Homo sapiens: one gene and its partners. The protein of the gene in region 1 purifies or fractionates together with the protein of each later gene. This does not show direct contact. Each region holds a gene or a part of one and is shown in the gene's direction. Other genes may lie near its edges.

What was found.
Region 2: the proteins of PPM1D (region 1) and GPI purify together in Homo sapiens (affinity purification with mass spectrometry; one large-scale study listed by BioGRID and IntAct). This does not show direct contact.
Region 3: the proteins of PPM1D (region 1) and TMOD3 purify together in Homo sapiens (affinity purification with mass spectrometry; one large-scale study listed by BioGRID and IntAct). This does not show direct contact.

Annotation. Positions count from the first base shown.
Region 1 is NC_000017.11:60,620,550-60,624,202, forward strand, and holds part of PPM1D (protein phosphatase 1D), read left to right. Parts: intron 1-2,971; coding exon 2,972-3,200; intron 3,201-3,653. UniProt on the Homo sapiens protein: Involved in the negative regulation of p53 expression. Required for the relief of p53-dependent checkpoint mediated cell cycle arrest.
Region 2 is NC_000019.10:34,368,182-34,371,834, forward strand, and holds part of GPI (glucose-6-phosphate isomerase), read left to right. Parts: intron 1-401; coding exon 402-521; intron 522-3,653. UniProt on the Homo sapiens protein: In the cytoplasm, catalyzes the conversion of glucose-6-phosphate to fructose-6-phosphate, the second step in glycolysis, and the reverse reaction during gluconeogenesis.
Region 3 is NC_000015.10:51,899,149-51,902,801, forward strand, and holds part of TMOD3 (tropomodulin-3), read left to right. Parts: intron 1-1,006; coding exon 1,007-1,150; intron 1,151-2,743; coding exon 2,744-2,888; intron 2,889-3,653. UniProt on the Homo sapiens protein: Blocks the elongation and depolymerization of the actin filaments at the pointed end. The Tmod/TM complex contributes to the formation of the short actin protofilament, which in turn defines the geometry of the membrane skeleton.

The DNA of each region.
Region 1 (3,653 bases):
AGAGTCTCGCTGTACTACACAGGCTGGAGTGCAGTGGCGTGATCTCAGCTCGCTGCAATCTCTGCCTCCTGAGGTTAGGATCCCTCCTGAGCTGGGATTACAGGTGTGCGCTACCATGCCTGGCTAATTTTTGTATTTTTAGTAGAGACAGGCTTTCACCATGTTGGTCAGGCTGGTCTAGAACTCCTGACCTCATGGTCCACCCACTTTGGCTTTCCAAAGTGCTGGGATTACAGGCATGAGCCACTGCACCCAGCCTGTTGCCATTTCTTTTGGTGGTCATATTAAAAAAGTAATTGCCAAGACCAACGTCGAGATTTTTCCTTATGTTTTTTTTCTAGGAGTTTTGTGCTTTTTGTTTTTCTTTTCTTTTCTTTCTTTCTTTTTTTTTGAGGCAGATTCTCGCTCTGTTGCCCAGGCTGGAGTGCAGCGGCACGATCTTGGCTCACTGCAACCTCCACCTCCAAGGTTCAAGCGATTTGCCTGCCTCAGCTGCCTGAGTAGCTGGGATTACAGGCGCACACCACCACATCTGGCTAATTTTTATATTTTCAGTAGAGATGGGGTTTCATCATGTTGGCCAGGTTGGTCTCGAACTCCTGACCTCAGGTAATCCACCCACCTTGGCCTCCCAAAGTGCTGGGATTACATGTGTGAGCCACCGCATCCGGCCTGAGTTATGCTTTCAATGTATTTCTTACATTTCAGTTTTTAATCACTTTCCAGTTAATTTTTGTGTATGGTATAAGACAAGGGTACAATTTCATTCTTTTGCATGTGGATATCCAGGTTTTCCAGTGCCATTTATTGAAGACTATCCCTACCTCAGAGTTTTGTTTGTTTGTTTGTTTGTTTGTTGTTTTGAGACAGGATCTCACTCTGTTGGCCAGGCTGGAGTGCAGTGGCACCATCTCCACTCACTGCAGCCTCCACCTCCTGGGTTCAAGTGATTCTCCCACCTCAGCCTCCTGAGTAGCTGGGACTACAGGCACACATGCCTGGCTATTTTTTGTATTTTTTTTTTTTTTTTTTTTTGAGACGGAGTCTCGCTCTGTCGCCCAGGCCAGACTGCGGACTGCAGTGGCGCAATCTCGGCTCACTGCAAGCTCCGCCTCCCGGGTTCACGCCATTCTCTTGCCTCAGCCTCCAGAGTAGCTGGGACTACGGGCACCTGCCACCACGCCCAGCTAATTTTTTGTATTTTTAGTAGAAACGGGGTTTCACCATAGTCAGGATGGTCTCGATCTCCTGACCTCGTGATCCGCCCACTTTGGCCTCCTAAAGTGCTGAGATTATAGGCGTGAGCCACCACTCCCAGCGTGTTAAGAGTTATCTCAAAAAAAAAAAAAAATTATCGGCCAGGCGTGGTGGCTCACGCCTGTAATCCCAACACTTTGGGAGGCCAAGGCGGGCAGATCACGAGGTCAGGAGATCGAGACCATCCTGGCTAACACAGTGAAACCCCGTCTCTACTAAAAAAATACAAAAAAATTAGTTGGGTGTGGTGGCAGGCGCCTGTAGTCCCAGCTATTTGGGAGGCTGAGGCAGAAGAATGGCGTGAACCTGGGAGGCGGAGCTTGCAGTGAGCCGAGATCATGCCACTGCTCTCCAGCCTGGACGACAGAGCGAGACTCTGTCTCAAAAAAAAAAAAAAGGAACACTCATTTACTGTCTTTATTACTGATTTTTCTTTTTGCTTATGTTGGATTACAAGTCTGCATTTTTATTTTTTTTCTTAACATAATTCTATTCCTTTAAACTTCCAGGAATTCTTCATCTTTGCCTATGACCTTTCTGTGTGTGTCTATATGTTGTGGATTTATTTCTAACATTTACATTCTGTCCTTTCAGTGGGATTTTGGTGGGGAGAATATGTCATTGTTTGGACTCATTTTGCCATCATGAACTATAAGTTGCAGTTTGTTTAGTGTTACATAATACTTCAGAATTGTTGAATGACAGTGAATTTAATTAAACAGTATAGGGTTTGTAATTTAATATACAGGGATTCTGCCCCTAAATATTTGAGTTATCTGAAGCAGGTTTCTTAATTATTCAAAGTATTGATATCCTTATCTGCAAAATGAGGAATAAGTAAATAAATAAAGGGAATAATCATATCTGTCTCATAAGTTCGTCACAAGCATTATTTGAGATAATACATGTAAAGCTCTTAGTATAGAACTTGGTATACAGTGAATATACTCAGTAAATGTAATTTGTTAAGTAGTGACTATTCAAAATAGTTATTTCAAAAACAAATCAAGCCGAGTGCGGTGGCTCATGCCCATGATCCCAGCACTTTGGGAGGCCGAAGCGGGTGGATCACCCAAGGTCAGGAGTTTGAGACCAGCCTGACCAACATGGCGAAACCCCATCTCTACTAAAAATACAAAAATTAGCTGGGGATGGTGGCAGGCGCCTGTAATACCAGCTACTCGAGAGGCTGAGTCAGGAGAATCACTTGAACCCAGGAGGCAGAGGTTGCACTCCAGCCTGGGTGACAGAGTAAGACTCAATCTAAAAAACAACAAAACAGAAAAACAAGTAGCTTTTTCAGAAAGCCTTTTAGAAGAGATATGAGTAAACAGATGCTAAGTGGCTGGCTAAATGATACCACAACTCTTGAATCAAAACTGATTCAGATTAAAAAAACCTCTTAACACATTCTTTCCTATCAATGTAGTTAGGACTAAGAGTCATGTAGCAGTAGTAAACCTGTCCTGTAATATATTTCTCTTAGGATTGGTTTGATAGTTGTATCATAATTGCATTATTTATAACATTAATTTATTAATGTATTCATTAATTAACCTAAGTCCTTTAGTAGTTTTCAGAATATTTTTCTTAAATTGTTTCCTGTGCTAATTCGAATGTTAACATGCTAATTCAGAGTTTGTTGCCATTTGTATCCTGACAGTGTATTAATGTTTATACTTGCAAGAGTGAAATATTTTATTTCTTATTACAGCGGAATGGCCAAAGACTATGACGGGTCTTCCTAGCACATCAGGGACAACTGCCAGTGTGGTCATCATTCGGGGCATGAAGATGTATGTAGCTCACGTAGGTGACTCAGGGGTGGTTCTTGGAATTCAGGATGACCCGAAGGATGACTTTGTCAGAGCTGTGGAGGTGACACAGGACCATAAGCCAGAACTTCCCAAGGAAAGAGAACGAATCGAAGGACTTGGTGGGAGGTAACATTCTGTCGTTTTCTCTTTCCTCTTTTGGTTCTATTTAGTCCTTTTATGCTTTACTAATGAAATTGACCTACTACTGTCCCTTTTACTGAAGTTACTTTCTTAGTATTACAGGTTTTTTAGTTTGTCTGATGTAATACTCATGTATGTATGTTCATATTTTTCTCATTACTATGAATTGACTTTTATTTCTGATAATGACTCTAATAGGAAATAATATTTCAGTGAGCCCCAAGGAAACAATTCAAGGTTTTACTGAAAACCTTTCAGATGACTTTCAGAATCTAGACGGAGCAGCTCTTGGAGTTCCAGAGTAGAACACTTTGAATCTGGCTGGGGGAAAAAGATTAAGTTAGAATTAACCTTCAGCTTTTTTCATTGATTTCAGATTTACTGCAAACCTTTCCAGTTATTGTTTTCTTTGTTTGAACTTAGCGTTTCAATGTGTAA
Region 2 (3,653 bases), on another chromosome or scaffold:
GAGTTCCGGGATTACAGGCGTGAGCCATGGCGCCCGGCCTCTGAAAGCATTTATTGCTTGTTTCTGACATGTATTGTTGCCATTCTCTGCCTTTGCTCACTGTTCCTCTTTTCTCTCACTGTTCATGCCCTGAGCATCTCTGGCAGGCCTTCGGGGCCTGTCCTAGGCATATATGGGTCCCCTCCTCTCCTCCTGACTGTCTGCAGCACATAAGTCCTTGGGGAGCTCCTACTCCTCTAAGCATACAGTGGGTTCTTGGAACAAGGTTATGGTGCTAACAGAGACCTCAGGGCCTGCCTGTCTAGTGGATAGAGGGCCGAGCTATGGCACCATGCCCAGCTGGGAGCATGGCTGCCTGGGGTTGGGGGGGGCAGTCTTTATATCCTGACCGTAATCCCCAGGGTCGAGCCGTGCTGCACGTGGCTCTGCGGAACCGGTCAAACACACCCATCCTGGTAGACGGCAAGGATGTGATGCCAGAGGTCAACAAGGTTCTGGACAAGATGAAGTCTTTCTGCCAGGTAAGTGGCTACTGGGCCGGACTCACCCTTGGCCGTGTGTGTGAGTTATTTGGGAATCTGGGAGCCCTAAGGGGCAGCTCTTCCCTCTTCTTGTAGGCAGGACTCAGGTTCTCACTGCAGCTTAAGGGAGGGGTTGCCTGTGTGATCGCTGACCCTGGAGTCTCTGCTGAGGCCTGAATTTCTCCTGGCTCTGCTCTGAAGGAATCTGCTGCTGGCAGAAGTGGGGCCAGTTTCTTTCCTGAATTGTAGACACCTATGGACTCATGGTGACAAACCACAGAGGCTTCAAATGAAAAGTGGGGCCCCTGAGAGACAGGACAGTCAGGAAAGGAAGGAGCTTTTTCTTTTTTCTTTTTTTTTTTTTGAGATGGAGTCTCACTCTCTCGCCCAGAGTGGACTGCAGTCGTGCTATCTCAGCTCACTGCAACTTCCGCCTCCTGGATTCAAGCTATTCTCCTACCTCAGCCTCCCGAGTAGCTGGAATTACAATTATGCGCCACCCTGCTCAGCTAATTTTTGTATTTTTAGTAGAGACGGGATTTCACCATGTTGGCCAGGCTGGTCTCAAACCCCTGACCTCAGGTGATCTGCCTGCCTCACCTGGGATTACAGGCATGAGCCACTGCGCCTGGCCGGAAGGAGCTTTTTCTAATCTCTTTTGTCATACGCCCTTATCACCCAGTCTAGAAACAGATAAAACATTGTAAAATTTCCTCAACCCTGGCTGGGCGCGATGGCTCATGCCTGTGATTCCTGAACTTTGAGAGGCCGGGGTGGGTGGATCACTTGAGGTAAGGAGTTCGAGACCAGCCTGGCCATCATGGTGAAACCCCATCTCCACTAAAAATACAAAAATTAGCCAGTTTTGGTGACATACGCCTGCAATCCCAGCTACTTGGGAGACTGAGGCAGGAGAATCGCTTGAACCCGTGCGGCAGAGGTTGCAGTGAGCTGCGATTGCGCCACTGCACTCCAGCCTGGGCGACAGAGGGAGACTCTGTCAAAAAAAAAAAAAAATTTCCTCATCCCCATTCCCAGCTAACCCTCCAGAAGCAGCCTTTGTAAAGTTTCCTGTAGCCAGGCGCAGCAGCTCATACCTCTATTCCCAACTATTCAGGAGGCTGAGGTGGGAGGATGGCTTGAGCCTGGGAAGTTGAGGCTGCAGTGAGCCATGGTGACACCACTGCACTGCAGCCTGGGCGACAGCAAGATCGTGTCTCTAAATAAATTTAAAAAATAGAAAAGTTTTCCTGTGAAGTCTTCCAGAAAGTTCCTGTGCACATACACATCTGTCATCTCCTCTTTGAAACACGTACACATGTGCACATGCACACAGGTTGGTTTTCTCCCTGCTCCTCTGAAGCTTATTTCCACCTGGAAGTATGTAAGCAGTGTCCGTGTGTCAGTGACAGTGCATGTAACATGCCTTCTTTTCCTTGTGTGTAGGGTGGTAGGGGTTGCCTCAGAGACCAGCTAAGTTTCCCCACATCAAGCACTTGCCTCAGTGTCTACCCTAGCGGTGATTCTGCAGGGGTGGGTTGGCAGACATCCTCACGTCTGGAGAACGAGGGTGATGCCGGTGTGCCTGTGTGGGCTGTGCATGCTACGAGGGTGATCGTCCAAACTCTTGTCAGCTGTGATCATTTGCTGCTTGTCCTAGGAGCAGTGGCCTCCATGTGTGGCTGGTCAGAGTCCAGTTACTTTGGCCAAGAGCCACTTTCAGACCTGAAAATGGGCTGGGTGCAGTGGCTCACGCCTGTAATCCCAGCACTCTGGGAGGCTGAGGCAGGTGGATCATGTGAGGTCGGGAGTTTGAGATCAGCCTGATCAACATGGTGAAACGCCGTCTGTACTAAAAATACAAAAAAATTACCTGGGCGGGCATGGTGGCGAGCACCTGTAATATCAGCTACTGGGGAGGCTGAGGCAGGAGAATCTCTTGAACCCGGGAGGCAGAGGTTGCAGTGAGCCAAGATCACGCTACTGCACTCCAGCCTGGGTGACAGAGTGAGGCTCTGTCTCAAAAAAAAAAAACCAACAAAAAAACCAACCCATCTCTGGAAAAAATAAATAAATCAGCTAGGTGTGGTGGTGTATCCCAGCTACTTGGGAGGCTGGGGTGGGAGGATTGCTTGAGCCCGGGAGGTTGAGTCTGTACTGAGCTGAGATTGTGCCACTGTCCTCCAGCTCAGGTGACAGAGTGAGACGCCTCCAGGGCAAGGAAGTTGTGGGGTCCTGATGGGAATCTGGATTTCCTGAATGTCACTTAGGGTGATCAGTCCATGTGATGGTCTTTGGGTGTGTGGCGGGGCCTTTCCAGCCATCTGCTGTGAGTGGCAGAGCTGAAGTGCATTAAAAGCCTAGTGCTGTGTGATCAGTCTGGGTGTGCTCAGCCATGCCACATGGCGAGGATGGCACTGCACCGTCTGGGGTGCTGTTTCCAGGAAAGCCTTCCCTTAAAGCTGGCCACTGGAGTACCTGACTCAGGCTGATAAGGTATTTATAGTTCAAAAAAAGTTGCTGAATGGCAGTAATCCCCTGGTGAGGAACATTCCCCATGGCTGTGCTCTCCAAAGTTTGCCAAGATTGGGTGAAGACGTTCACTGTGACCTTGATTGTAGTGGCAAAACCTGAAACCAAGCTGTACTCATTTGTCAGGGGACTTACAAAGTAGAGTCAGCACATATTCATATACTGTCATCCTGGGCACCAATAGGGATTAGGGAGCTATAGTTGGATTGATCTGCCATGCTGTTCAGGATGGACTGGGAAGTTGAAAAAGGAAGTTGCAGAATTGGTGGGTATGGTAAAGACTCATTTGGTCAAATGAAGGCTGGGTGTAATTGTAATAAAGATAGACACATTTGGCTTGGTGCAGTGGCTCACACCTGTAATCCCAGCACCTTGGGAGGCCGAGGTGGGTGGATCACGAGGTCAGGAGTTCAAGACAAGCCTGGCCAACATAATGAAACCCCATCTCTACTAAAAAAAAATACAAAAAAGTTAGCCTGGCATGGTGGTGCATGCCTGTAGTCCCAGCTACTCGGGAGGCTGAGGCAGGAGAATCACTTGAACCCCAGAGGTGGAGGTTGCAGTGAGCCAAGATCACGCCACTGCACTCCAGCTTGGGCA
Region 3 (3,653 bases), on another chromosome or scaffold:
CATAATTTACCCTCATTTTGGCTTCACATGATCCAGCTACAGCAAGACCCAAATAAGAAAAGATGTTACAGCGACATTGATGAAGTTGGTCTAACACAGAAACTGAAAGAGTGAGAGAGACAGAAGAAAGAAGCATGAAGTAGGGAATGAGGAGTAGAGAATGTCACCAACGGGGAATTACATGTGACCAAAAAATCAAAAGATTATGACTGGGTACATATGAAAAATAGGTACAGGCCAGGTGTAGTGGCTCACACCTGTAATCCCAGCACTTGGGGAAGCCGAGGTGGGTGGATTGCTTGAGCCCAGGAGTTTGAGACCAGCCTGGGCAACATGGTGAAACCCCATCTCTACAAAAAATACAAAAATTAGCCGGGCATGGTGGCACACAACTGTAGTCTCAGCTACTCAGGAAGCTGAGGTGGGAAGATCAATTGAGCCCAGGAGGCAGAGGTTGCAGTGAGCTGTGATCCTGCCACTGCACTCCAGCCTGGGTGACAGGGCAAGACCCTGTCTCAAAAAAAAAAAAAAGAAAGAAAAGTAGATACAGTCATCCATGGGTTCAACCAACTTCAGATCAAAAATATTTGGAAAAAAATTCTATGAATTTCCAAAAGCAAAATCTGAATTTGCTGTATGCCAGGTACTATGTTGAATCCACAAAAATGAAGTGATGTGTAGGCATTGTATTAGGTATATTAAGTAACCTAGAGGTAATGAAAAGTATACAGGAGCATGTGTGAAGGTTATATGCAAATACTATGCCATTTTCTATAAGGCACTTGAGCATCTGAAGATTTTGGTATCTGCAGATGGTCCTGGAACCAACCCCCAACAAATACTGAGGGACAACTGTACATGTGAGAGCTATGGGCTACTGTGTCAAACTGAAACAACTAATGACAAACATTAAGGCAGTTAATTAATGTATTTATTTATGGCATGTACAATATGTAGTAGGTACTGTATCAAATTTTAATCTCTTAATATTTTCTCTAATTTCTAGGCTTTTGCAGAAATGCTGAAAGTGAACAAAACTTTGAAGAGCTTAAATGTGGAGTCCAACTTTATCACGGGAGTTGGGATTCTGGCACTGATTGATGCGTTAAGAGATAATGAAACCCTGGCAGAGCTCAAGATTGACAATCAGGTCAATGTTCTACAATAATAACGTCGAGGAAGCTACAGCCCACGCTGCTGTGTAGGGCTTGGCGACTCAGGATGGGGATGGGAGGCGGGCTGTCAGGGATCCCTGTTGGAAGATGCTGGGCTGAAAGGAGAGCTGACATTTGGGGTATCTAGAATATTAACTCAGTGTATATAACAGTGTATACAATGTAAAGGTGTATACTCTCCCTAGATCATTTTAAGAGAATTTAGATGGCTATCTAGTTTGAACTGAGAGGACTCTTACATGTGACCTAGTCCACCTTCCAATTTTTCAGCTCTGTGCTGGCAAGGTCCACATTGTAGGGTTTTTGTAAAAGGCAGAGAGATACATGTTAGAAATGTTTCCATCCAGAGTAGCTATTAATTTTTTTATTTGAAAAAATAACTCCATTTATTTGAAAAAATATTTGTTAAATGTCTCCTTCAGTCCTTCAAAGTAAATACATTTTGTAAACTATGAAGGTGGAAAAGAGGATTATGTCTTAAAATTTAACCCAGTGCTTCATAATCCATGTTTTTCATTTTTTTATTGAGATATAATTACATACAGTAAAATTCATTTTCTTAAAGTATACAGCTAAATGGTTTTTAGTATATTTGTAGAGTTTTGCAGCCATTACCACTAATTCCAGAACATTTTCATTACCCCAAAAAGAAACCCCATACCCATTAGCAGTCACTCCCCATTCACCCCTCTCACCAGGCTCTGGCAATCACTCATCCACTTTCTGTTTCTTAGGATTTGCCTATTCTGGACAGCTTATATCTGTGGAATCAAACAATATTTGATCTTTTTGTGCCTGGCTTCTTTCACCTGGCATAATGTTCTGGAGGTTCATCTGTATTGTAGCATACATCAGGACCTCATTCTTTTATGACTGAATAATATTCTATTCCATTTGGGGTGTGTCCACATACGGGCCACTAGAAATAATGCTGCTGTGAACATTCATTACAAACTCTAACATGGACATAGATTTTCATTTCTCTTCAGTATATAGCTAGGAGTGTATTGCTGGGTCACATGGTAACTCTATGTTTAACTTTTTGAGCAGCAGCCAGTTTTCCACAGTAGCTGTACCATTTTACATTCCTCTCAGCAATGTCCCCATTTTTCCACATTCTTGCCAACACTTGTTATTATCTATCTTTTTTATTATACTTATCCTAGTGGGTATGAAGTGATATGTCATTATAGTAATTCACACTTTTTTGATGTCTATATGATCATATTACTGAACTTTAAAAAGTTTAGTGTGTGTGTGTGTGTGTGTGTGTGTGTGTGTGTGTGTGTATAAAGTTCCAGTGAGGCTGTGGTGATGATTGGGTCAATGGGTAAAATCCCCTTCCTGTGACAAACATTTCATAGCTTTAAGTGACCAGTTTTCTACAACAAACAATTTGTTCTCAGTTACAAATCAGTACTTGGAACTACTGAACTATGTATATGTTGTAGGAATTGGGAACATTTAAAGAGATCAAAGAATTAGCATGTGCCTGAATGTCTTAATTTACCTTGAAAAGTATTTTGATCTAGTTTATTAATATTGTTCTTTTTTTCTAATTACTCCAGAGGCAGCAGTTGGGGACAGCTGTAGAATTGGAAATGGCCAAGATGCTTGAGGAAAATACAAATATCCTTAAATTTGGATATCAGTTTACACAGCAGGGACCACGAACCAGAGCAGCTAATGCTATAACAAAAAACAATGACTTAGGTAAGACATAGTATCGATCAAGTTTCTGAGTTCTATCACAAGCTAACGTATTGGGGGAACTTCTTTCCCTCTTAAGAATAAATTCTAACAGAGAAGTTATTTGGCCTTTGTTTCTAAAATCTGCATGGTCCTTTATATACTGATTGAATTCAAGTTCAATTAAAGTGAGGTTGTGATGATTGGGTCAATGGGTAAAATCAGCTTCCTGTGACAAGCGTATTTCATAGTTTTAAGTGACCAGTTTTCTACAACAAACAATTTGTTCTCAGTTACAGATCAGTCCTTGGAACTATTGAAACAAAGATTTCAACATTATCGGAAAGTTTTTTGCCCTTTTAATCAAGCGGACCCAGATAGAAATTCAATTTTATATGATAGAATGTGGATATAGAAATATATAAAATAGAGAATAATTATATTTCTCACCCAGGTTTTTTGTTGTTGATTTTTTTTGAGACGGAGCCTCGCTGTGTTGCGAGGCAGGAGTGCAGTGGCGCCATCTCGGCACACTGCAACCTCCGCCTCCCAGGTTCAAGTGATTCTCCTCCCTCAGCCTCCCGAGTAGCTGGGACTACAGGCGTGCGCGCCGTGCCCAGCTAATTTTTGTATTTTTTTTTTTTTTTTTTTTTTTGAGACAGAGTCTTGCTCTGTCGCCCAGGCTGGAGTGCAGTGGCACGATCTCGGCTCACTGCAAGCTCCGCCTCCCAGGTTCACGCCATTCTCCTGCCTCAGCCTCCTGAGTAGCTGGGGCTACAGGCGCCCGCC